3 separate regions of the Homo sapiens genome follow, and regions 1 and 2 are each linked to region 3. The links come from fine-mapping of genetic effects on gene expression. A gene starts in region 3. Each other region holds a variant in brackets. All regions are shown on one strand. Distances are from middle to middle. Region 1 overlaps ETFBKMT (electron transfer flavoprotein subunit beta lysine methyltransferase). Region 2 holds the start of LOC124902913 (a long non-coding RNA gene). Region 3 holds the start of AMN1-AS1 (AMN1 antisense RNA 1).

Region 1 (8,182 bases), 61 kb before region 3:
GTTTTGCTCTTGTTGCCCAGGCTGGAGTGCAATGGCACAATCTTGGCAGACTGCAGCCTTCCCCTCCCGGGTTCAAACGATTCTCTGCCTCAGCCTCCCGAGTAGCTGGGATTACAGGCATGTACCACCACGCCTGGCTAATTTTGTATTTTTAGTAGAGACGGGGTTTCACCCTGTTGGCCAGGCTGGTCTCGAACTCCTGACCTCAGGTGATCCACCCACCTTGCCTCCTAAAGTGCTGGGATTACAGGCGTGAGCCACCACACCTGGCCATTTATACATTTCTTTTCTTTCTTTCTTTTTTTTTTTTTTTGAGACAGAGTCTTACTCTGTCACCCAGGCTGGAGTGCAATGGCTTGATCTCTACTCACTGCAGCCTCTGCCTCCTGGGTTCAAGCAATTCTCCTGCCTCAGCCTCCCGAGTAGCTGGGATTGCAGGTGCCCGCCACCACACCTGGCTAATTTTTGTATTTTTAGTAGAGATGGGATTTCACCATGTTGGCCAGACTGGTCTCGAACTCCTGACCTCAGGTGATCCACCTGCTCAGCCTCCCAAAGTGCTGGGATTACAGGCAGGAGCCACTGTGCCCAGCCTACAACTTTTTTTTGAAAAAAATTGACTTGAATAGCATAATCAGTCAGTTGTGTGGTACTGTGCTTCACACCTGCTGAAGAGAAAGACCAAATGACTAGGTCCTTTCTTCTGCCACCTCTGCCCAGCTCTGGAGATGGACTTTTTGTGTCACTCTAGTCAGACCAAACTTGCCAAGGTTGGACCAAGTTCTGCTACTTTTCACTATTTCTTTTGTCCAGTCAACCTAAAGACATCTCTTTTCTTTCTTTTCCTTTTCTTTTCTTTTTTCTTTTTTTGCATACCTCTTATTTGCTGAGACCAGCTCGGCTGGGGAGACCCTAACCCAGTGACACTAGAGGAATTAAAGATACACACACAGAAATGTAGAGGTGTGAAGTGGGAAATCAGGCGTCTCACAGCCTTCAGACCTGAGAGCCCCGAACAGAGATTTACCCACATGTTTATTAACAGCAAGCCAGTCATTAGCATTGTTTCTATAGATATTAGATTAACTAAAAGTATCCCTTATGGGAAATGAAGGGATGGGCTGAAATAAAGGGATGGGTTGGGTTAGTTATCTGCAGCAGGAGCATGTCCTTAAGGCACAGATCGCCCATGCTATTGTTTGTGGTTTAAGAACGCCTTTAAGCAGTTCTCTGCCCTGGGCAGGCCAGGTGTTCCTTGCCCTCATTCCGGTAAACCCACAGCCTTCCAGCGTGGGTGTTATGGCCATCATGAACATGTCACAGTGCTGCAGAGATTTTGTTTATAGCCAGTTTTGGGGCCAGTTTATGGCCAGATTTTGGGGGGCCTGTTCCCAACATTTATTTTTCCTCATCTCTCTGAGACATGTTTCTCCTTTTTAATTTAGGTATCTTTTGGATAATCCTGATGTTGTCAGAGGAAAATCTGTATTAGATCTTGGGAGTGGATGTGGAGCTACAGCTATTGCTGCTAAGATGAGTGGGGCATCAAGGATCTTGGCCAATGACATAGACCCTAGTAAGGATTCATATTTTAAAATATTTAAGGCTCATCTTTTTTTTTTCTCTGGGATAAATATGTACACATGCTCAGTGTGGTAGCTTATCGTTATATGTATTTTGTGATTGGACATTGTGAATCTCTGTGCACTGGGACATTATCTGTAGGAATCCCCTGAGGTCTGAGTAGATGGTGCATTTTTCCCAAGAGGATTTGTGTCTGCCAGACATCCAGAGTAAGCACTTATGTTAATTTATGGGCTAGGAATTTCCTGAAATATGTAAATAGTGTTTATTTGACCCCAAACCCAAGTGAGTATTGACCTGTCTTTGAGGGTTATTTTTATTCCATTAGAACCCAGGCTGAGACAGGTAAGTTTTTATTTGATCTGATTTTCTTCTGGTCTACCCTTTCACTGAGAATATAGTCCTTGAAAACCTTTATTTTATTTTATTTATTTATTTATTTTGAGACAGAGTCTCCCTCTGTCACCCAGGCTGGAGTGCAGTAGCACAATCTCAGCTCACTGCAAGCTCCGCCTCCCGGGTTCACACCATTCTCCTGCCTCAGCCTCCTGAGTAGCTGGGACTATAGGTGCCTGCCACCATGCCTGGCTAATTTTTTTTTTTTTGCATTTTTAGTAGAGATGGGGTTTCACCGTGTTATTCAGGATGGTCTCAATCTCCTGACCTCGTGATCTGCCCGTCTTGGCCTCCCAAAGTGCTAGGATTACAGGCATGAGCCACCGCGCCTGGCTGAAAACCTTTATTTTATAAAGGAGTCTCAGTTCTTTTTTTTTCTTTTTTTTTTTTTGATACAGAGTCTCACTCTATTGCCCAGGCTGGAGTGCAGTGGCACGGTCTTGGCTCACTGCAACCTCCACCTCGTGGGTTCAAGTGATTCTCCTGCCTCAGCCTCCCGAGTAGCTGGGATTACAGGCATGCACCACCATGCCCAGCTAATTTTTGTATTTTTATTAGAGACAGGGTTTGACCATGTTGGCCAGGCTGGTCTTGAACTCCTGACCTCAGGTGATCCACCCGCCTCGGCCTCCCAAAGTACTGGGATTATAGGCGTGAGCCACTGCGCCCAGCCAAGGGGTCTCAGTTCTAATTTATTGCCATGCTCAATCAAGCCCAAGTCTCGTTTCCCTGTCCACAGTAAAAAAACAAAATCTTTTGGTTAATGAAATCAGCAAATATTCCTAAAAGTCCCAGCATTTCTAGGTGTTTTGAATTGTTTGTTTTCAGGATATCCAGTCATGTATTTGGAAATTGTGGTATAGCTTATATTGGGATAACCTTTATACTTCTCTACTTTAAAAAACAACTTTCATCAAAAAGGAAGAAAAATATATTGTTAGCAGATCTTCTAAATTATTTAATCAACATGGAATTATAACAGCCTAGCATATACCAATTCATTTTGTGCTTTTTTTTTTTTTAAGTTGCAGGAATGGCTATTACACTAAATTGTGAATTGAACAGACTGAATCCTTTTCCTATTTTAATCCAAAACATTTTGAATTTGGAACAAGATAAGTGGGACCTTGTTGTTCTTGGCGATATGTTTTATGATGAAGACCTTGCAGATAGTCTTCATCAGTGGCTGAAGAAGTGCTTCTGGACCTATAGAACTCGAGTACTGATTGGTGACCCTGGGCGGCCCCAGTTCAGTGGACACAGCATTCAGCATCACCTGCACAAAGTGGTAGAATATTCACTTTTGGAGTCTACTAGGCAGGAAAACAGTGGACTGACAACAAGCACAGTGTGGGGTTTTCAGCCTTGAGTTGTCAAAGTGCTTCCAAGTATGAATATAGTAATGTTTGGATCTGACTCTAAAAGTTTTCTCTATAGGAGATACTCTCCAGTTTAATGAATGTAATTCTTGTTAAATGGAAAATCTTGTTTTTAAAATATGAAGGTTTAGAGTTTTGTTTACTTTTGTCATGTAACTGGTTCTGTATTTCTATGCATGCCAATTATACACATCTCTATCTGCATTTTTTTTTCTATTTTAACCGCTGAAGGAATATGATTATACAATGCCATACTCAATGGTGGCAGCATTTAATTTAAGTAATGGAGAAGAATTAAACATTGTAGCTGGATCTGTTTCTGTAGTCGAGGACAACTGTGATGTAACTTTGAATTAAACAAACAAAACAAAACAGAAGAAGACTATATATATATTTTTTCTTTTTTTAGAGACAGTCTCACTTTGCTCCCAGGCTGGAATGCAGTGGCTATTCAGAGGCTTAATCATTGGGCACTGCAGCCTTGAACTCTGGGCTTTTTTTTTTTTTTGAGATGGAGTCTCAGCTCTGT[C/A]GTCCAGGCTGGAGTGCAGTGACTCATGTCTCGGCTCACTGTAGCCTCCACCTCCCCCAATCAAGCGATTGTCCTGTCTCAGCCTCCAGAGTAGCTGGGATTTTAGGTGTGCACCACCATGCCTGGCTAATTTTTGTATTTTTAGTAGAGACGGGGTTTTGCCATGTTGGCCAGGCCGGTCTCAAACTCCTGACCTCAGGTGATCCACCCGCCTTGGCCTCCCAAAGTGCTAGGATTACAGGTGTGAGCCACCACGCCAGCCTGACGATGTTTTTTACTTCTATCACTTCCTTTTGATTTTTTCTTATAGCTTCTATCTCTGCTTACGTCACCCATCATTCTTGCGTGTTGTATGCTTTTCGCATTAGAGCCCTTTGCATGTTAATCAGTTATTTTAAATTTATGATCTGGTAATTCTAAAATGTCTGCCATAACTGAGTCTGGTTCTGATGCTTGTTTTCTTTTCAGACTGTTTTTTTGTCTTTTAGCATGCCTTGTAATTTTTTGTTGATAGCTAGACATGATGTATTGCATAAATAAACAAGTAAACTAAGGTAGCATGAGGTTTTAAAATCTGGGTAGGGCTACTGTTTGCTGTAGAGTAGATATTACAGGCTAAATTTTCCTCTAGTGTCCTGGCTATTGTCTCCTCTGTTATCTTTGAGTTTCCCTAGAGATTCCTTCTTATATAGAGTCTGAAGCTTGCAGTTTTTTTCACCTGTAATTCCCTGTTATTATACAGTAGCCTAACTGATGTGATAAGGTATGGGAGAAGGTATGTTCTATAGTCCTGTGATTAAGTCTCAGTCAGTTAAGTCAGCCTGTGCCCCTGCTGTGACCTTCACAAGTGCTTTCAGCTTTTCTTTTGTCACTTTGGTGAGACAGGAAGGCTAGAGGCAGCTGGAGTTGGGTGCTTCCTTTCCCCCAGGTCAACGAGGCTCTGGTAAAATAGTTTCCCTTGAGAACTGGCTTTTGTTAAGGAGAACTGAACACTTGGGCATATTTCAAAATGGTTACTTTCCCTATCCTCATACCAGAAGAGGGGATTTTTCTCTGATCCTCACCCTGAGAACCTGGTAGGTATCCTGGAGGTAAAACTATGAAAGTGTGGTGTCTCCCCTAGGAGTGGGCCCCCTGGAGTTTGTTTGTTTTAATTTAACAAAGTTTAATTGAGCAAAGAACAATCTGTGAATTGGGCAGCTCCCAAAAGCAGAATAGGTTCAGAGTGACTGCAGGGTTGCCACACCTGGTTAGATAACGTTTATGGACAGATTCCTAGAGCTTTTGATTCTTTTTTTTTTTTTTTTGAGGCAGAGTTTCACTCTTATTGCCCAGGCTGGAGTGCAATGGCGTGATCTTGGCTCACTGCAACCTCCACCTCCTGGGTTAAAGTGATTCTCCTGCCTCAGCCTCCTGAGTAGCTGGGATTACAGGTATACACCACCAAACCCAGCTGGGATTACAGGCATGCACCACCATGCCCAGCTAATTTTTGTATTTTTAGTAAAGACAGGGCTTCGCCATGTTGGCCAGGCTGGTCTCGAACTCCTGACCTCAGGTGATCCACCTGCCTCAGCCTCCCCAAGTGCTGGGATTACACGTGTGAGCCACTGTGCCAGGCTGGAGCTTTTGATTCTTAAGTCCATCCACATGGAGCCTCCAGCAACTCAGGAATTACAGCATAAATGTTCCTATTGGTACTGGCTCCAGCAACAGGCTTCTGCTCCCTGTAAGCTATGGTTCTTTGTATTTGCGTTTCTAATTTGTGAGGCATTCTCTCTTTAACCTTAATTCTCTAATGGATCTAAGTGTTGTTGACTTTTCAGTTTATTGAGCTTTTTTCTTATTGTGAGGATGGGAATGATGACTTCCAATCTCTTTATATTAGAAAATATAAATCAGACTAGAGACTGGAAATTTTTGTTGTTGTTGTTGGGTGTTTTGTTTTGTTTGTTTTTAGACAGGTCTTGCTCTCTCATCCAGGCTGGAGTTCAGCAATGCGACCGTGCTCACTGCAGCCTCGACTTTCTAGGCTCAGGTAATCCTCCCACTTCAGCCTCCTTAGTAGCTAGGACTGTAGGCATGCACCACCATGATGCCTGGCTAGTTTTTTTATTTTGTATTTTTTGTAGACATGGAGTCTTGCTACATTGGCCAGGCTGGGTATTACTGGGTATTTCTTTCTTTCCTCCTTTATTTCTTTCCATATTTACTTATTCAATGAATATTTGAGTGCTTATTATATACCAGGCACTGTTCTAGGCACTGGGGATATGGGGATACAGCAATGAAAAAAAAAGATAAATACTTTGTCCTTATGAAATTTGTATTCTAGAGTAGGGAGACATAATGAACAAATGAAAACAGGCATCAGATGGTGATAGGTAGTAAGGAGAAAAAGAAGTAAGGGTAATAGGGAATACTGGGTACTGGATGGGGTACAGATATTTTAAACAGAGTGGTGAGAAATAGTTAATACAGCTAGCAACATAAAAAAGGAGAAATATCAAACTGCAAACTGTTTTAGGAAGATAAATCCTTCATAGACCCAAAGAAGCTCACAATTTAGATGTCGAAACTAGTTTCTGCAAAAAGGGGAAAATGTGATTGACTTGGTTAAATATTCAGTATTAAATTTTATTGAATTTGTCTTTAGAAAAATTTCATAGTTAGAACAGGCCTTACCCATTTTGCACATATATACATATGCACCACCTTTGCAGTGGCAACATATATATCCACACTATAAACATACCACATTTATAAATCTTGTAAGGACAAGAAATGGAGTTGAATAAGTACCCCCCAACATATACAAGAAAGTTAGCATACTTACCCCGTTTTTCACTACATCAGAGGCAAAATAAGAAATCTTTTAAGAAAATCTCAAGACTGGCTCATGGCAAAATGAATATGCTAAATTTGGGGGTTGGTTTAAGCGTGGTATGTGTCAGGTAATTTTGTGATTACCAAAAAGTTTTCACTTGAAAACTAAGACCTTTGCTGTTTATTTCACAATGTGAAATCAATAAACCTGAGGATACAAGTCTCTGTAGTGATATTCTGTATTTACTCATTTTTACACATTTTTGAATGCAATTTTGCTAAGGAAGGAAAGCTTACAGATGCATAAAATGTAACTGGGAAGAGTAGCCATAAAAATCAATGAATGGATGTGGCTGGGCAAGAGCCTCTGTAATACTAATACGCTGAATGGCTAATAAGTCACTTCATTTCGGTGAAACAAATACCTAAATTCTTTGAAGAATTAACAGGCTTGATGTTCAGGTCTGCTTTTGGCAAATGGGCATTTAAATACTCCAAGAAGGTAAGAGCCAGAAAATAGGAAGGTAACTATGCTTTTAGAAATATGTTTACTTAGATTCTCCCAAGGTTTATACTTACAGGTAAACTTAGAACAATAGCTCAAATACCTACATAGGAGAAGGAAATCTCAAGGGAAAACAGTTAATTTTAAAGTTATTTAAGAAACAGAATCCAACACCATAGATCAGAGTTCATGCTAGGATTATCATTTCAAAAATAATGACTCATCCAACAGATATAGAATAATAGCACTTTAAAGATGTTTAAGAGTAAAGCACAAACCATGTATATACCAAGACTTAGCTAATTCTCTGAGAGTTATAACTTAAGACAATAAAATAATTAAAAATAGTGTTAACATTAAGTAGAATGCAAATCTCTATAGATGGTTTCCTGGGAAAGTAGTTTTGATAAGCTTTCCTAGCATTGATCATCTTCAAAAAAGCATCAATAAACAGTCCATGTCACTTGCTTTAGTTTGTTTGGGCCTACTAATTGCTCCAACACTTCTCGGGAATGATCTATAAAAGAAAACAATGACAATATATTAATTGACAATAAAAAATGTTTAATGTTTCCTCATGTCTAACTGGAGGTGATGTTAATTATTATACAGTTATTTAAAGGATTAAAGGAGGTGATCTATAAAGCACAATATACAACTAACTCACTAATAATTAATTAATGGTAGCCCTCACTATTATTAGGTGTAGTGCACCTATCATGGTATTACTTGTTTAAAAAAAAAAAACAGGCATTTGTTGTTTTCTCTGTAATTTCATCATAATTCCACCAACCAGAGTAATGGTCTAATTTCACCATTAACCTGTGTTAATGGTTAATAACTTTTTTCAGGATCTTAGCCGGAAATAGATGATTCACTAAAGTGGGGTGACTGAACAGCATTTAATGAAGGGAATATTTACCAAAAAAGTAGGATTAAAGAAAGCCAATAGGTACGGTAAAC
Region 2 (8,151 bases), 82 kb before region 3:
CCCGGCTAATTTTTGTATTTTTTTGTAGAGTTGGGGTTTCGCTATGTTGCCCAGGCTAGCCTCAAACTCCTGGGCTCAAGCAATCCTCCCGCCTCGGCTTCCCAAACTGCTGAGATTATAGGCGTGCACCACCATGCCCAGCCCAGAGCCATACATGTTGGTTTAACCAAAAGAGCTGAAGGGTGGCTTGGAGCACTGGCATAAATGATGTCCCTTTAGCTGTCAGGGCTGACCGGGAGGGAAACAACCCTGCAACCCGTAATGGTCCTTGGCTTGATCAAAGAGCACCTTGTACTTGAGGTACCCTCTTTGTCCTGGTCCCATCCATTCACCAGCAGCCTTCACACATCTGTCCTAAAACCTTAGATTTTACCTATCTGTTGCTGCACATACAGCGGTGCCAGGGGACACTGTCGACCACGCCCGGTTAATTTTTTGTATTTTTAGTAGAGATGGGGTTTCATCATGTTGGCCAGGCTGTTCTCAAACTCCTGACCCCAGGTGATCCACCTCCTTCAGCCTCCCAAAGTGTTCGGATTACAGGCGTGAGACACCACGCCCGGGCTCAAATGTTCATCTCTTTCAGAAATACCCTCAGAGGAACACCCAGAGGAATGTTTGACTAACTGTCTGAACACATTGCAACCCAGTCAAGCTGACACATAGAATTAACCCTCACAGAACCAATAAGGAAGTGGAAGAAAGTGCTTCTTTTGCTACAGGATGAGGTGGGAGCAGGAATTGTGAGAGGCCCCCTGGCCACCATCTCCAGTGTATTGGGTTCAGCTCATTTCCTCCCCAGCACTGCTACTAATGTTCAAGGCATTATTTGTTGAAGCCAGGTGCCGTCTAAGCAGGCTGTCGAGGGAGAGCAATTTTTTTTTTGAGACAGGATCTCTTTCTGTTGCCCAGGCTGGAGTGCAGTGACATGATCTTGGCTCACCGCAGCCTCGACCTCCCAAGTAGCTGGAACCACAAGTGATCCTCAGGTAATCAGGTGATTCTTTCACCTCAGCCTCTTGAGTAGCTGGGACCACAAGTGTGTGCCACCACACCTGGCTAATTTTCTTTCTTTTTAATAGAGATAGGGTCACCCTATGTGGCCCAGGCTGGTCTCAAACTCCTGGGCTCAAGTGATCCTCTTGCCTTAGGATCCCGAAGTGCTGGACTACAGGCGTGAGCCACTGTGGCTGGCCTTTTTTTTTTTTTTTTTTTTTTTTAAGGAGAGCAATTTTGGTAACTAGAGACTGCTGGGAAAGAGAATGTGGGCGATCAGAGAGTGCAAGGGACATAGAAGGAAGTCTTTAGAACTTGGATGGGAGTCCAAGTTCTGCCACTTCCAGGCCTTTGTGCATTCAGCCAGTTACTTAAGCTGTTTGGCCTCAGTGTCCATATATTGCATTAACACCGGGAATAACAATTTTTACCTTACAAGATTGTTAAGGGAATTAAATGAGATCATGTGAATAAAGAGCCTGCCATAGAGTTGCACTCAATAAACACTATTTTACTTCCCCCTGAATTCCCTACCTGTACTTTTGGCACATGAAAAAATAATTAGGTAGAAATAGGCTGGAGTCCAGCAGGGGAAGACAAACTAATCTTTCCTGGACTACATTTTTACATGGATAAAAATTTTTGCCACTGCAACTCTAAGCAGCACTCAGTATCTTTGAGATATTAGTGATGTTTTTCTCTGATGTTCTTTTAGCTCCTGGGGTCACTGTGGGCTAAGAGAGGTGGAGACAGGCTTTGTGCAACGCTGCCTTGTCCCCCTGCTCAGAGGCAGATGTGACTTAATAGGAAGAATCCTAGAGGCCTTCAGATGCTGTAGAGAAGATTCATGTTTGATGAGAGAGAGCCTGGATGACATGAAAGTTGTTGTTTTTTTCCAGAGAAAAGGAAAGAGACATAACATTCCCCCTACCCGCCCAAGCATCAGCTTCCTCTTCTGAACTGGTTGCTGTGGAGATTAAAAACTTTGTACACAGCACATTGCACACAGGCGATACGCGGTTGTTAGAATCTCATTACCATTGACAATGGCTAATTATAGATGTGAACATCTAAATGTGTCTGAAGGGGACAGAGAAGTTTGGTAAGGATAACTTACAATCTTTCCATCTTTTGTTTTGTTTTGTTTTGTTTTGTTGTGTTTTAGAGAGGGTCTTGCAATGTCGCCCAGGCTGGAGTGCAGTGGCATGATCTTGGCTCACTGCAGCCTCCACCTCCCGGGTTCAAATAATTTTCAAATCTCTGCCTCCAAAGTAGCTGGGATTACAGGCACATGACACCACGCCCAGCTCATTTTTGTATTTTTAGTAGAGATGGGGTTTCACCATGTTGGCCAGGCTGGTCTTGACCTCCTGATGTCACGTGGTCTGCCCACCCTGTCCTCCCAAAGTGCTGGGATTACAGGCGTGAGCCACTTCGCCCAGCCTTTTTTTGTTTCGTTTTGTTTCTTAGAGACAGCATCTTGCTCTGTCCTTCAAGCTAAAGTGCAGTGGCTTGAACATGGCTACTGCAGCATCAACCTCCTGGGCTCAGGTGATCCTCCTGCCTCAGCCTCCTGAGTAGCTGGGATGACAGGTGTGCACCACCATGCTCAGCTAGTTCTTACAATTTTTGTAGAGACCAGGTTTCATTATGTTGCCCAGGCTGGAATTTTCGTATTTTTTGTCACAAAGCCTCGCTATGTTGCCCAGGCTGGTTTCAAACTCCTGGCTTCAAACAGTCCTCACACCTTAGCCTCCCTAAGGATCTTGTGCTGAGATTACAGGCATGATCCTCCATCTTTTTATATTGTGTAATTATAATGCAGAGTAGTTTGAGCTTGGTGATGAGAAAGCTTTCTTTTCGCCTTCCTGCCACTCATTGTTTGTATACTTTATTTTCAAAGGCCATTAACATGTCGACAGCCACTGAGCTGCTGTTTTTGTTTTATTGTTCCCTTGACCACACACCAACCAACCATGACTCCCAATTAATATTCTTAATGGAATCCAAGCCTCTAAGCCTCACAGTCCAGGCCCTCCACCAGCCTGCCTCACCCTATCCTCATTTCATCTCCCGCAACCTGGCTCCGGTGAGTGCTCTTCGTAGTCAGACTGGGCTGTTTATTTTCTGCAATGAACTTGTAAATCCCTGCCTTTGGCTCGTGCTTGAAATAGCTTCCTCTTTCTCATTACCGAGTCTACGTCCTGTGTTTAAGTGCAGCTCTGGAACCAGACGACATGTGTGTCATCCCAACTCTACTGCCAGCTATTTATGAGCCCTCAGGCAAGTTACTGAACCTTCCTGTGACTTCACTTCTTTACCTCTAAAACAGAGGTCATAATAGTATACCTACATCCTATGCTTATTTTGAAGCTTAAAGAGGTAATTTAGGGGCTGGGCGCGTGTAATCCCAGCACTTTGTGGGACTGAGGCGGGTGGATCACCTGAGGTCAGGAGTTCGAGATCAGCCTGGCCAACATGGCAAAACCCCGTCTCTACTAAAAATACAAAAATTAGCCAGGTGTGGTGGCAGGTGCCTGTAATCCCAGCTACTCGGGAAGCTGGGACAGGAGAATCACGTGAACCCGGGAGGCGAAGGTTGCAGTGAGCCAAGATCACGCCACTGCACTCCAGCCTTGGTGACAGAGGGAGACTCCATCTCAAAACAAAACCAAAGAAAACAAACAAACAAA[A/C]AAAAAACAAGTGTTGATAAGAATGTGGAGAAATTGGAACCTTCATAAATTGCTGGTGAGAATGTAAAATTGTGCAGTCACTTTGGAAGACAGTCTGGCAATTCCTAAATAATTTGAGCATAGAGTTACTATATCACCCAGCACTTCCATTCCTAGGTATATACCCAAGTGAATTGAAAGCATATGTCTCCACATAAATGTGTACATTAATGTTTATAGTGGCATTATTCATAATAGCCAGAAAGTGGAAACCACCTTAATGTTTATCACAGATGAATGGAGAAACACAATATAGTACTGAATATTCACATAATGGAATATTATTTAGCCACAAAAGGAATGTAGTACAATTGTCCTTCAGTATCCACAGGGGATTCGTTTCAGGACCCCTGAGGATATCAAAATCCATGGATGCTTGAGTTCCTTATATAAAATGATGTAGTATTTGCATAATTACTTTAAATCATCTGTAGATTATAATGTTGAATATGATGTAAATAGTTTTTTTTTTTTTTTTTTTGAGATGGAGTCTCGCTCTTTTGCCCAGGCTGGAGTGCAATGGCACCATCTCAGTTGACTGCAACCTCCGCCTCCCAGGTTCAAGCGATTCTCCTGCCTCAGCCTCCTGAGTAGCCGGGATTATAGGCATGGACCACCATGCCCAGCTAATTTTTATATTTTTAGTAGAGATGGGTTTCTTTTTTTTTTTTTTTTTTTTTTTTGAGACGGAGTCTCGCTGTCTCCCAGGCTGGAGTTCAGTGGCGCAATCTCGGCTCACTGCAAGCTCTGCCTCCCGGGTTCTAGCCATTCTCCTGCCTCAGCCTCCCAGGTAGCTGGGGCTACAGGGGCCCACCACCACGCCTGGCTAAGTTTTTGTATTTTTAGTAGAGACAGGGTTTCACCATGTTAGCCAGGATGGTCTCGATCTCCTGACCTTGTGATCTGCCCACCTTGGCCTCCCAAAGTGCTGGGATTACAGGCGTGAGCCACCGCGCCCAGCCCTGTGACGGGGTTTCACCATGTTGGTCAGGCTGGTCCTGAACTCCTGACCTTGTGATCCGCCTGCCTCAGCCTCCCAAAGTGCTGGGATTACAGGCATGAGCCACCACGCCCGACCAATAGTTGTATTTTTTTTGGAGACGGAGTCTCGCTTTGTCACCTAGGCTGGAGTGCAGTGGCGTGCAATTGGCTCATGCCAACCTCTGCCTCAGCCTCCCAAGTAGCTGGGATTACAGGCGCCCACCACCATGCCGGGCTAATGTTTTGTATTTTAGTAGAGACGGGGTTTCACCGTGTTGCCCAGGCTGGAGATAGTTGTTATATTTTTAGGAAATAATGACAAGAAAAAAAAGTCTATACATGCTGTTCAGTACAGATACAAATTTTTTTCCCCAATTTTTTCAATCTGCGGTTGGTTGAATCTACGGATGTGAAACCTACAGATACAGAGGTCTGACTGTACTTATTCATTCTACAACATGAATGAAGAAAACATTATGCTCAATGAAAGAGTCAGTCACAAAGGACTGCATATGATTCCACTCACAGGCATCCCTCCTTTTACTGTGCTTGGCTTTATTGTGCCTCACAGATATTGTGAATTTTACAAATTGAACGTTTGTGGTACCCCTGTGTCGGGCTAGTCTATTGGTGCCATTTTTTTTTCAAACAGAGTGTGCTTACTTCGTGTTTCTGTGTCACATTTTGGTAATCCTCACAGTATTTAAATTTTTTTCATTAATATTAAAAGTAATGGCCAAAACAACAATTACTTTTGCACCAACCTAATATGATTATCTGTTCTGGTGATCTGTGATCATAGATCTTTGATGTTTCTATTGTAATTGTTTTGGAGCACCCATGAAAGATGGTGAACTTAATGGATAAATGTGTGTGTTCTTTTCCTTTTCTTTTTTTTTTTTGAGACAGAATCTCTCTCCGTAGCGAAGTACAATGGCATGATCTCAGCTTACTGCAACCTCCACCTCCCAAGTTCAAGCAATTCTCCTGCCTCAGCCCCCTGAGTAGCTGGGATTACAGGCACGTACCACCACACCCAGCTAATTTATGTATTTTTAGTAGAGGTGGGGTTTTGCCATATTGGCCAGGTTGGTCTCGAACTCCTGGCCTCAAGTGATCCACCTGCCTCCCAAAGTGCTGGGATTACAGGCATGAGCCACTGCACTCAGCCCTGCTGTCAGAGGCCTTTGTACCAGAGCAACTCCATCTCGAATAGGGGCTGGTTAACCTGAGGCTGAAACCTGCTGGGCTACATTTCCAGTAAGTTAAGGTATTCTTAGTCACAGAATGAGATAGGAGGTCGCTGTAAAGACTTTGCTGATCAAACAGGTTGCAGTAAGGAAGCCAACCAAAACCCACCAAAACCAAGATGGCAACGAGAGTGATCTCCAGTCGTCCTCACTGCTACACTCCCACCAGTGCCATGACAGTTTACAAATGCTGTGGCAACATCAGGAAGTTACCCTATATAGTCTCAAAGGGGAGGCATAAATAATCCACCCGTTGTTTAGCATATATCATCAAGAAATAACCATAAAAAATGGGCAACAAGCAACCCTTGGGGCTGCTCTGTCTTTGGAGTAGCCATTCTTTTATTTCTTTACTTTCTTAAACTTGCTTTCACTTTATGGACTTGCCCTGATTTCTTTCTTGCGTGAGATCCAAGAACCCTCTCTTGGGATCTGAATCGTGATCCCTTTCCAGTAACACTAAGAGGGTTTTGAGTGGAAGATTGAAATGACCTGACCTTTTTTTTTTTTTTTAAAGAATCACTCTGGCTTTTCTGTTGAGAAGAGACCAAAGGAAGCAAGGAGGGATAAGGAGGTTAGTTCAAAGACCTTTGCAATGAAAGAGTTAAGGACGTGCCACCCCCAAATATGCCAGTTTGGCATACTGATTATTTCAAGCTGAAGGTACTTGAGAGACTGTCATTGCAGGAAGAGCTAGCTCACTGTTTCACAGTGGACAGGGTCTATGCAAACCTGCGGCCAAGGAAGCTGAGAGGTGGAAGAAAGAGGCTGACACATCCAGTTTCTTAGGAAGAAACGTTTACTAGGGACTTAGAACAGAAGCCATGTCTGTATCTCAGGAAGCAGTGAGACAAGATGGTGGATCCCCGCACCATTACCCCTCAAACCCAGGGCTTATATACCCCAGGAGAGGAGTGATTCAGAAGGGACGTGGAGAACAACTTAAGTATGATAACATCAAGGCCACTTGACCTAAGGGCAGGATTTACAGTCAGTACGTGCTCTTACACAAGGAACAATAGATAAACTGGAAGTCTTACAAGACTTCCTGGAACTGGCGTTAATCAGAAACCAGCATGGATTAGCATCCAGGATGGAGTTGCTTTGCCCTCCCCACTGACGTGTCCATTCCTACCTTTAGGAAGCCATAAAAATTCCTTTGAGAAAGATGCCTTCCCTTTTTTTTTTTTTCTTTTTTGAGACGGAGTCTTGCTCTGTCGTCCAGGCTGGAGTGCAGTGGCGCAATCTCGGCTCACTGCAACCTCCACCTCCCGGGTTGCAGTGAGGCAACCCGGGTTCAAGCAATTCTCTAGCCTCAGCCTCCCGAATAGCAGGGATTACAGGTGCGTGCCACCACGCATGGCTAATTTTTGTATTTTTAGTAGAGACGGGGTTTTACCACGTTGGCCAGGCTGGTCTGGAACTCCTGACCTCAGGTGTGATCTAGCCGCCTCCGCCTCCCAAAGTGCTGAGATTACAGACATGGGCCACCGCGCCCGGCCGATGCCTTCCTTTAGTAGAAAGAGAAAATAACCCTTATCTCCAGAGACTGGGAATTGATGCTACAATGGACCTATACAGATAAACTTACTAAACGAACACTTACCTTTCACTAGCTTTGCACTTCACTGATACAGGAGTTTAGAAGAAATCACTTAGGCAGATAGTAGGAGTATGGGAATCCTCAGTAAGGCTTTTCTTTTTCATGAAAAGCAGCCCCAAATCATTTTCTAACAAAGAGCATTCTGTAAAGCCGAGCTGCAGACACAGACAAGCAAGCTGGGAGCTTGCACGAGTGAACGCAGGGAGGAACTTCGGAGTACACATGTTCAAATTGGAGGCTCCATCTTCCCTTCCCTTTGTCAGCCACGTGTACTGTAAGGAGCAGACAAGATGGTGTTGATCAACTAGAAAGTCTATTTCCATAATAAGATTAGGGTGGGGTAACCAGGCTTCCCCTGCGCACAGTGTAAACGTCATACCTGATCAAACCAATCTATGAGCCCTATGTAAATCAGACACCGTCTCCTCAGACCTGACTATAAACTTCGGCGCATCCACTGCCGGCTGGTCCTTTCCACTCGCAGATCCATTTCTCTATAGAGAAAGCTGTTTCTCTTTCCCTTCTCTTCTGCCTATTAAACCTCTGCTCCTACACTCCTTGTGTGTGTCAGTGTCCTAAATTTTCCTGG
Region 3 (8,182 bases):
GGGAATACACATGTGCACCACCATGCCCAGTTAATTTTTTTTGTATTTTTGGTAGAGACAGGGTTTCACCATGTTGGCTAGGCTGGTCTCGAACTCCTGACCTCAAGTGATTCACCTGCCTCGGCCTCCCAAAGTGTTGGGATTACAGGCATGAGCCACTGCACCCAGCCTAATCCTTGATCTTTCTTTCAGATTCAAAATTATATTCTAACTGCCTGCTTGATATTTCTACTGGATATTCTGATTCATTTTCCCCGTAAGACACTTCTTCCTCCATAATAGTCTAATCACCATTCTACCTGTCAACGAAGCTAAAACTAAAAGAGTAATTTCTTTTTTTTTTTTTTGGGGGGACGGAGTTTCGCTCTTGTTGCCCAAACTGGAGTGCAATGGTGCAAGCTCGGCTCACCGCAACCTCTGCCTCCCAGGTTCAAGCGATTCTCCCACCTCAGCCTCCCAAGGAGCTGGGATTACAGGCATGCACCACCACGGCCGGCTAATTTTGTATTTTTAGTAGAGACAGGGTTTCTCCATGTTGGTCAGACTAGTCTCGAACTCCCCACCTCAGGTGATCCACCTGCCTCAGCCTTCCAAAGTGCTGGGGTTACAGGCGTGAGCCACGGCCCCCAACTAAAAGAGTAATTTCTAATTCTTCTCTTTCCTCGGTCCCTCTATTCAAAACTATTCATGTCCCAGATCCAAAGGATTCTCTAAAGCAGTGTTAAAGTGCTGGTCAGTGAGGAGATAAGGAGTTTATGCAAGAACATAAACCAAGCCCTGTTTCCTTCATGGAGAAAGCCTCATCAGCTGGACTAAATAATGTGCTTAGTGACACACTTAATTACTAGTCTGGCTCAAGCTTCTTACTTTGTTACAAACCAGAAATAGCTTGCTGACCAACTGCCAGTCTCAGACTGTACCTTGTCCCAGAAGGGTACAAAATTAGGTTCTAAGGGCAAATATGGACCTTTACCTAGGGACCACACTCTAGCATGACAATGAAGATCATGTAGTCATCCCTGTCTTAGCCCCAAGTTCTGAAGAATTTTTCTTAACATTGTTAGTCTGTTTCCTCTTTTTTTCACTAAGCACTGTGTTTTAAAATTCTATCCAAATGAATCTACTCTTTGCTTTTCTTTCATTTATTTATCTATTTATTTATTTATTTTGAGACCAGGTTATGAGATTGGCTAACTTTTTATTTTTGGTAGAGACATGGTTTTGCCATGTTGCCTAGACTGGTCTCCAACTCCTGGCCTCAAGCAATCCACCCTCCTCAGGGTCCCAAAATGTTGGGATTACAGGTGTGAGCCACCATGCCTGGCCTACCCTTTGCTTTTCTAACAGCTGCATAATATTCCATGGTAACTCTCCCATTCCAGCTCCATGCCACCAGAAATAATTCTGCAAAGAACATCTTCATGTGTCTCCTGGTTTGGGCTCTTCACCTCTTAAGATTTTGTAACAGTCTTCTAAGTGTCTCCCTATTTCCAACTTCTGCCTAATTCAAATCTCTCTCTGCTCACAGTACAGTTCTAAAACCTTTGATAGCTCCCCATGACTGAAAGAGGAAATGCTCTTACTTCATCCTGGTCCCTAAGATTCTATTCCCAATGACCTGGCTTTATGTCTCACTACTGTGCTATTCATATTGTATCTTCCATTCACATTGGAGCGCTACTTTCTGGTCTTCTCTCATATTTCTACCTTTCCTGCCTGTCAAACCTTTACTCTTTTTATTTCACTCTCTACGATACATTTCCTCCCATTTGCAACCGTCAGATACTACCAATGTTCAAAAATAACCCCCTTGACAAAGCTTTCTCCTATTCTTTTCCTTATTAGAAATTTCAAAAGTTTGTTACTCTCCCGCTTGTGATATTATTCTACATATATTATAGTTATTTATTTTATTTTTTTGAGACAGTCTCGCTCTGTCGCCTAGCAGCCTAGGCGTGCAGTGGCGCGATCTCAGCTCACTGCAACCTCTGCCTCCTGGGTTGAGGCGATTCTCCTGCCTCAGCCTCCAGAGTAGCTGGGACTACCGGCGCCACTACTACTCCTGGCTAATTTTTGTATTTTTAGTACATGCCGCGGTTTTGCCGTGCTGGCTAGGCTGGTCTCCAACTCTCCTGATCTCAAGTGCCTCGGCCTCCCAAAGTGCTGGGATTACAGGCGTGAACCACCGTGCCCAGATAATTTTTGTATCTTTAGTAGAGGCGGGGTTTCGCCACGTTGCCCAGGCTGGTCTCGAACTCCTGAGCTCAAGCAGTTCTCCCACCTCGGCCTCCCAAGTTTAATGTAAAATATCAGATGCCATTGTTTCAGAAAGCCTTCAGTAGATTAAGGAGATTGTTCTCCTTATCCTTAAGATGTCTATTTTTTACATGGCAATATTAACGGACTGAAAGCTCCTGGAGAGACGCAATTGCCCTTGTAACTTCCATTTCCGTACAATTTCTGGTAGGAAATAATAATAACAATAACACTTAGTGGTGTTTATTATTTGCTGGGCATCCTTATAAGGGTTTTACATGTTTTAAATTTATCCCTCAGGACAACTCCATGTGATGGGTGCTATTATCACAAAAATTTTATAGATAAAGAACCTAGGCACAGGGAGAGGTTACGTTACCGGTCCATGGTCACGTGGCTGGTGAATGGCAGAGCCGGGGGCTGAACCCAGCAATCTCAGCCAGGGATCCGTGGTCTTAACCACTTTGTTACCTTTATCCCAGGGTCTGTCAATGTTTATTCCAGTTACAGGGGTGGAATTCTGCTAGAAGCTTTTGAGAACCTCATCTAGCGTTGTGTTTTTTTCTACCAAGGCTTTTAGCTGCTAAGAGAGAGGCCACTGCCAGTAACAGCCGGGGCGCCGAGCTGTCAAGGCTGACGGAGGAATGGACGCTCATCGCGCAGCGGAGTGTTGGAGGGGCAAGCCCGCCAAGAGACCCACTTTGCACAACTGTCCTCAGCCAGGAAACGACAGATCAGGAACCCAGGGACAGAAACACACGCGGGGCCTCTTCAGAGGTCGGCGGGGGGGGTGGGAAAGGGGCGGGGAGGAAGAGCAGCGCAGGGCCTGGCCGTTTGGAGGAGGTGCTGGGGCGGCGCGAAGGGAGGCGGGACAGGGTAGACTCACAGATCCAGGAGCTGACTGACCCGCCGTGGGCGAGGCATCGCTGCAGCGTCTGAAGCCTCTTCCGCGGTCCCAGGGCCTCCAGAACCCAGCCAGGGACCGTCCGCCAACTCCCGCCCACCGCGCGACGCGTAGGTTTTTGTGACGTCACACGGATTTTTCCGGTGACCGGGGCGTGGCCACGCTTCGGACTCCACAAGGAAAGAAGAGAGCCCCCTTTGGGGCGGAGCCACTGAGGGCTGCGCGGAAGAGGCTGGGTGTGATAAACTATAAAGAGGCCCTAAACTCGGATGCAACGTGACGGGAGTTGTAGTTCTTTCACCTGGCGGGCGTCTGCTCCGGTTCAGCTGCAGGAGGTTTCTTGGGAGTTCAGCCCAGCGCGCAGCCCCGCCGCGACGCCGCGAGCCGAGAACTCTCCTGGGGCGAAGGGAGCGCTGAGAAGTCGCTACTCTTACTAAAAGGATGCGTTGGATGCTGGGCCATACCCTTGGCGATGCACACTGGAGACCCGCTCGGATACGGACTCCATTAACATCAAACGGAGCGTGTTAGAGGATCCGAGTTTACTGAGCACTTTCTAGGAAGCGTGCACTGAGCTACGTGCTTTCTAGGCCTTAGTTCAATACTTAACCATATTCATTATAATCCGGTGAAATCGTAATTATTTAGCCTTATTTTACAGATGAGGACACTGCGTACCAACAAGTAACCTCACTAAGAATTTCGTCATGGAGGAGAAGGGAACCTGTATTCAAATTAGGAAGGATCCTGAAGAAAGGGCACCTTTAGGTGGAATTTTATCTTTGGTTCTGCTGCAGAGTACTTGCTGCTTTTTAGTGCTCCCTCCACCCCCCTCATTCTTCCTTGTAGATTAGTCTGTTGTTTGTATGCTGAGTTCCTTTTTTAAGCTCCTTGAAAGTTGGAACCCACTGCTGTTGCCTGTTCAGGATGCTACACATTGAATCAACATGGATTTATTAAGCGCTGAACGAGGGCTAGGGATCGTGCTGGGTGCTGAGGATTGAGTGGCGAACACTTGGGTCAGACAAGTAAAAGGGCAATTAGAATAACTGTTAAATGCTTAGATGGGGTTAGTTCTATGGAAGCACCCATGGGGGTGGGATACAGATCAGAGAGAAAAGGGTGGTCTGCAAATAGTTTGGGATGGCTACACTGGAGAGTGATCAAGAGTGAGTGTAGGGCAGGGGTTGGCCGACTTTTTCCATAAAGTGCTCTGAAAGTTGCAGATTCCAGGAGAAGTAACTATTGTCAGACCCAGACAAATTGGAGCCTAGAGACCAGAAAGGAAGGAAACTCATGCTTGTATGTCTGAGATAAGAACTGTCTCAAGGCCAGACGCGGTGGCTCACACCTGTAATCCTAGTACTTTGGGAGGCCGAGGCGGGCGGATCACGAGGTCAGGAGTTTGAGACCAGCCTGGCCAACGTGGTGAAATTCCCGTCTCTACTAAAAATACAAAAAAAAAAAAAAAAAACTGGGTGTGGTGGCGGGCGCCTGTAATCCCAGCTACTGAGGAGGCTGAGGCAGGAGAATCGCTTGAACTCGGAGGAGGTTATAGTGAGCCGAGATCGTGCCACTGCACTCCAGCCTGGGCGACAGAGCAAGACTCCGTCTCAAAAAAAAAAAAAAAGAAAGAACGAACTGCCTCAAGGACTTTAAAAAATAAACCAAAAAACCCACAATTTCTTCACATCTTTCATGCATTTAATGTTTTGCACAACTTGCTTGTTTTGCAAATATGCGCACATTTCTATGACAAGATTTATTGCTAAATATTCTTTAAAACTGCAGCAGTTCAGATAAGATACTGTCGAAAGGACGTTTGGCCCAGCAGCAGGACCTCCACCAATGAACGGACTCCAATTCTTGATTTGAGCCTTGGGAACCAATCAACTTAGTTTCCAAGAGTTTATGTGAACTTCCCTCCTTTACCAGTAAAATCTTCCCCCTATTCTTCCCTTCTCCAGACCCGTGGCTTGCCATAGCTGTACATCTTGGATTATAATTCTTTTTGTTCACTCCCAAAGAAACTCAGTATCTTTGGAGAATTCTTTCTTTGTTGTCTTTTAGCTTCCCAGAGCCAAACAAGAAATATTTTAGGTTTTGTGGGTCATGCTGGCTTGGTCACAGCTATTCAACTTGTATCTTAAAATTAGCCATAGACAGTATGAATGGGTGGGTCTCTGTTCCAATAAAACCTTATCCTAAACACTGAAGTTTGAATTTTATGTAATTTTCAACTGTCATGAAATACTCATCTTTTGATCTTTTTCAGCCACTGAAAAATGTAAAAGCCATCCTTAAGTTGCAAGCTATACAAAAACAGACAGTGGACTGGATTTGACCCTTGAGCCATTTGTCCATGTGCCCTCACCTGATCTAGAAAGCTAAAATGCACATGCCTCACGCCTGTAATCCCAGCACTTTGGGAGGCCAAGGTGGGCGGATCAGCTGAGGTTAGGAGTTCGAGACCAGCCTGGGCAATATGGAGAAACTCTACTAAAAGTACAAAAAAATTAGCTGGGCGTGGTGGCAGGTGCCTGTAATCCCAGCTACTCAGGAGGCTGAGGCAGGAGAATTGCTTGAACCCAGGAGGCGGAGGTTGCACTGAGCCGAGATCACACCACTGTACTCCAGCCTGGGCAACAAGAGTGAGACTCTACCTCAAAAAAAACAAAGAAATTACGAATTTTAAGATGGTGATAGCAGAGCACTAAACCCAGAGTGGGGCCCGTGTGACTGCACATTTTGCCCACCCATGAAGCCAGCCCTGGGTGCGTCCAACTTCAGGATTCCCCCCCCCAAAAATCAGTTCAGGAACCCTATGTCAAAATAAAAATCAAAGACAAATATGAGCACAGAGAGACATTTTTACTTGCAGTTCAAGAAAATCAGACTTTCAGAGAGTGGCTCGCTAAATAGAATAGAGGAATTTATAGCTCAGATGAAATGGCAGATATTTATAGCTCAGATATGGCAGTTCATTCCAATTGGATAAGAACAAGATGTTCCTGTTTTGTGGTAAGGAAAACAGGATGTTCTTGTTTTTGTGGCTTATCTCTGGAGGCAAAGCTTTTAGGATTTCCCGTTAGTCAAGGCTTTTAGGAGGTTCCCGCTATTCATGGTTTATCTTTGAATGCAAAGTTATTGGGAATGAAAGTCTTTTCTAGTGTATGGTAAGTGATTTGTAGGCAGGGTTAGGCTAAGGGCAAGATATTTTCCTTTTCTCCTCTCTGTTTGCTGTGCCCACTTTAATATAGTTTCCTCTAGCTCAGAATCTCCTCCACTTCCTACCATAGCTACCATACAAAGTAAACGTTATCATAGATTGTTGCTGTGGGTTTGTTTTACTTTACTCCAGGCTGGAGTGCAGTGGCGCAATCTCGGCTCACTGCAACCTCTGCCTCTCGGATTCAAGCAATTCTCCCGCCTCAGCCTCCCAAGTAGCTGGGATTACAGGCATGTGCCACCATGCCAGGCTAATTTTTTTTTTTTTGTATTTTTAGTAGAGACGAGGTTTCACCATATTGGCTAGGCTGGTGTCGAACTCCTGACCTTGTGATCCACCTACCTCGACCTCCCAAAGTGCTGGGATTACAGGCGTGAGCCACCGTACCCGGCCTCTGGGTTTGTTTTATAAAAATAATTAACAAAATTACTTTTCTTAAATCATGCTGTTAATTCATAATGTAATATATGAGCTGTATGTGGACCCATGTTTTAAAATACAATAAATATATATAAAACAAGTATATCTTATTTATATGAATGTGTGCTTTCACAAGAACAGAACGGAGCTAAGCCAAGTGAGCCCCTACTTTATTATCCTACCATGTGTAGGTTATTTTCAAATAGGATTGCTCTTAACTCTCCAAGTGTCCTTTGAGAAAATAACACGTCTTTTTATTTAGTTTCTTTTCATAGCTTGTTTTATAATATCACACTCCAAATTGGAAATAACAGTGCCCATGCTCATGGATTGTTATACATTGTTGAAATTTCCCATTGGCTAGAAACACTTGCTTTGTTTCTAGGTTAGAGATCTGTGACTTTCAAATTCTCAGGAGTCTGAGTCATACAATGGATGACTCAGGATCCAAGCAGGTTAAGAGTTGGGCAAGTTCAAACAGGAGAAGCAAGGAGATGTTAATAAAGGAGCTGTTCCCAAAGGTGTGGACAGAGTTAGGGCAGAGCAAGGGTAAAGGTAGTTCAATACCATAGCGCTACAATAGCAGGAAGACCTTACCTCTTCTGGTCCTGGAGGGCAAAACCAAAACCTTGCCAGAGTGACCACAGGTGAAGCCACCTGAAAGGAACTGTGGCCTTTGAATTTGTAACCGCCTAAGGGGTTCACCTTGCCCCCTGCCTAGAAAGAACTGATTCATCAAGACGGGGGAATTACAATAGAGAAAGAGTAATTCACACAGAGCCAGCTGTGCGGGAGACAGTTTTATTATTACTCAAATCAGTCTCCCCAAGCATTTGGGGAGCAGAGTTTTTTTTTGTTTGTGTTTTTTTTTCAGAGTCTTGCTCTGTCACCCAGGCTGGAGTGCAGTGGCGCTGTCTTGGCTCACTGCAACCTCTGCCTCCTGGGTTCAAGTGATTCTCCTGCCTCAGCCTACCAAGTAGCTGAGATTACAGGCATGTGCCACCACGCCCGGCTAATTTTGTATTTTTAATAGAGACGGGGTTTCACTATGTTGGTCAGGCTGGTCTCGAACTCCTGACCTCGGGTGATCCACCCACCTCAACCTCCAAAAGTGCTGGGATTACAGGTGCGAGTCACCACGCCCAGCCAGGAGCAGAATCTTTAAGGATAAATTGGTGGGTTGGGGGAAGCCAGTGACCCGGGAGTGCTGATTGGTCAGGACGGAAATGAAATCATAGGGAGTTGAAGCTGTCTTCTTGTGCTGAGTCACTTCCTGGGTGGGAGCCACAAGATCAGATTAGCCAGTTTATCCATCTGGGTGGTGCCAGCTGATCCGGCAATTGCAGGGTCTGGAAAATATCTCAAGCACTGAG

What was found.
Region 1: its variant is fine-mapped to the expression of AMN1-AS1 in whole blood (INTERVAL, PIP above 0.99).
Region 2: its variant is fine-mapped to the expression of AMN1-AS1 in whole blood (TOPMed, PIP above 0.99).

The regions. Positions count from the first base shown.
Region 1 is chr12:31,664,642-31,672,823 of GRCh38, forward strand. It overlaps ETFBKMT (electron transfer flavoprotein subunit beta lysine methyltransferase), which reads left to right. Exons shown (of 4, transcript NM_001135863.2): 3 at 1,446-1,576; 4 at 3,006-8,182. The coding sequence ends at 3,349. It overlaps AMN1 (antagonist of mitotic exit network 1 homolog), which reads right to left. Exons shown (of 7, transcript NM_001113402.2): 7 at 6,501-7,736. The coding sequence ends at 7,663. Among named protein-coding and RNA genes, the nearest start is that of ETFBKMT, 9.0 kb to the left of the region's middle. The variant C/A (reference allele first, on the strand shown) is at 3,889.
Region 2 is chr12:31,644,171-31,652,321 of GRCh38, forward strand. It overlaps LOC124902913 (a long non-coding RNA gene), which reads right to left and starts at 7,888. Exons shown (of 2, transcript XR_007063269.1): 1 at 7,566-7,888. It also overlaps a transcript of ETFBKMT not described here. The variant A/C (reference allele first, on the strand shown) is at 3,690.
Region 3 is chr12:31,725,829-31,734,010 of GRCh38, forward strand. It overlaps AMN1-AS1 (AMN1 antisense RNA 1), which reads left to right and starts at 3,437. Exons shown (of 1, transcript NR_198987.1): 1 at 3,437-5,376. It overlaps AMN1 (antagonist of mitotic exit network 1 homolog), which reads right to left and starts at 3,193. Exons shown (of 7, transcript NM_001113402.2): 1 at 3,143-3,193. The coding sequence starts at 3,180. LOC105369722 (a long non-coding RNA gene) reads left to right here. Exons shown (of 3, transcript XR_931497.3): 3 at 2,829-3,062. RefSeq lists a silencer at 2,982-3,061, enhancers at 3,112-3,461, 3,474-4,106, 3,502-3,701, 7,392-8,182 and a cis regulatory region at 7,131-7,358.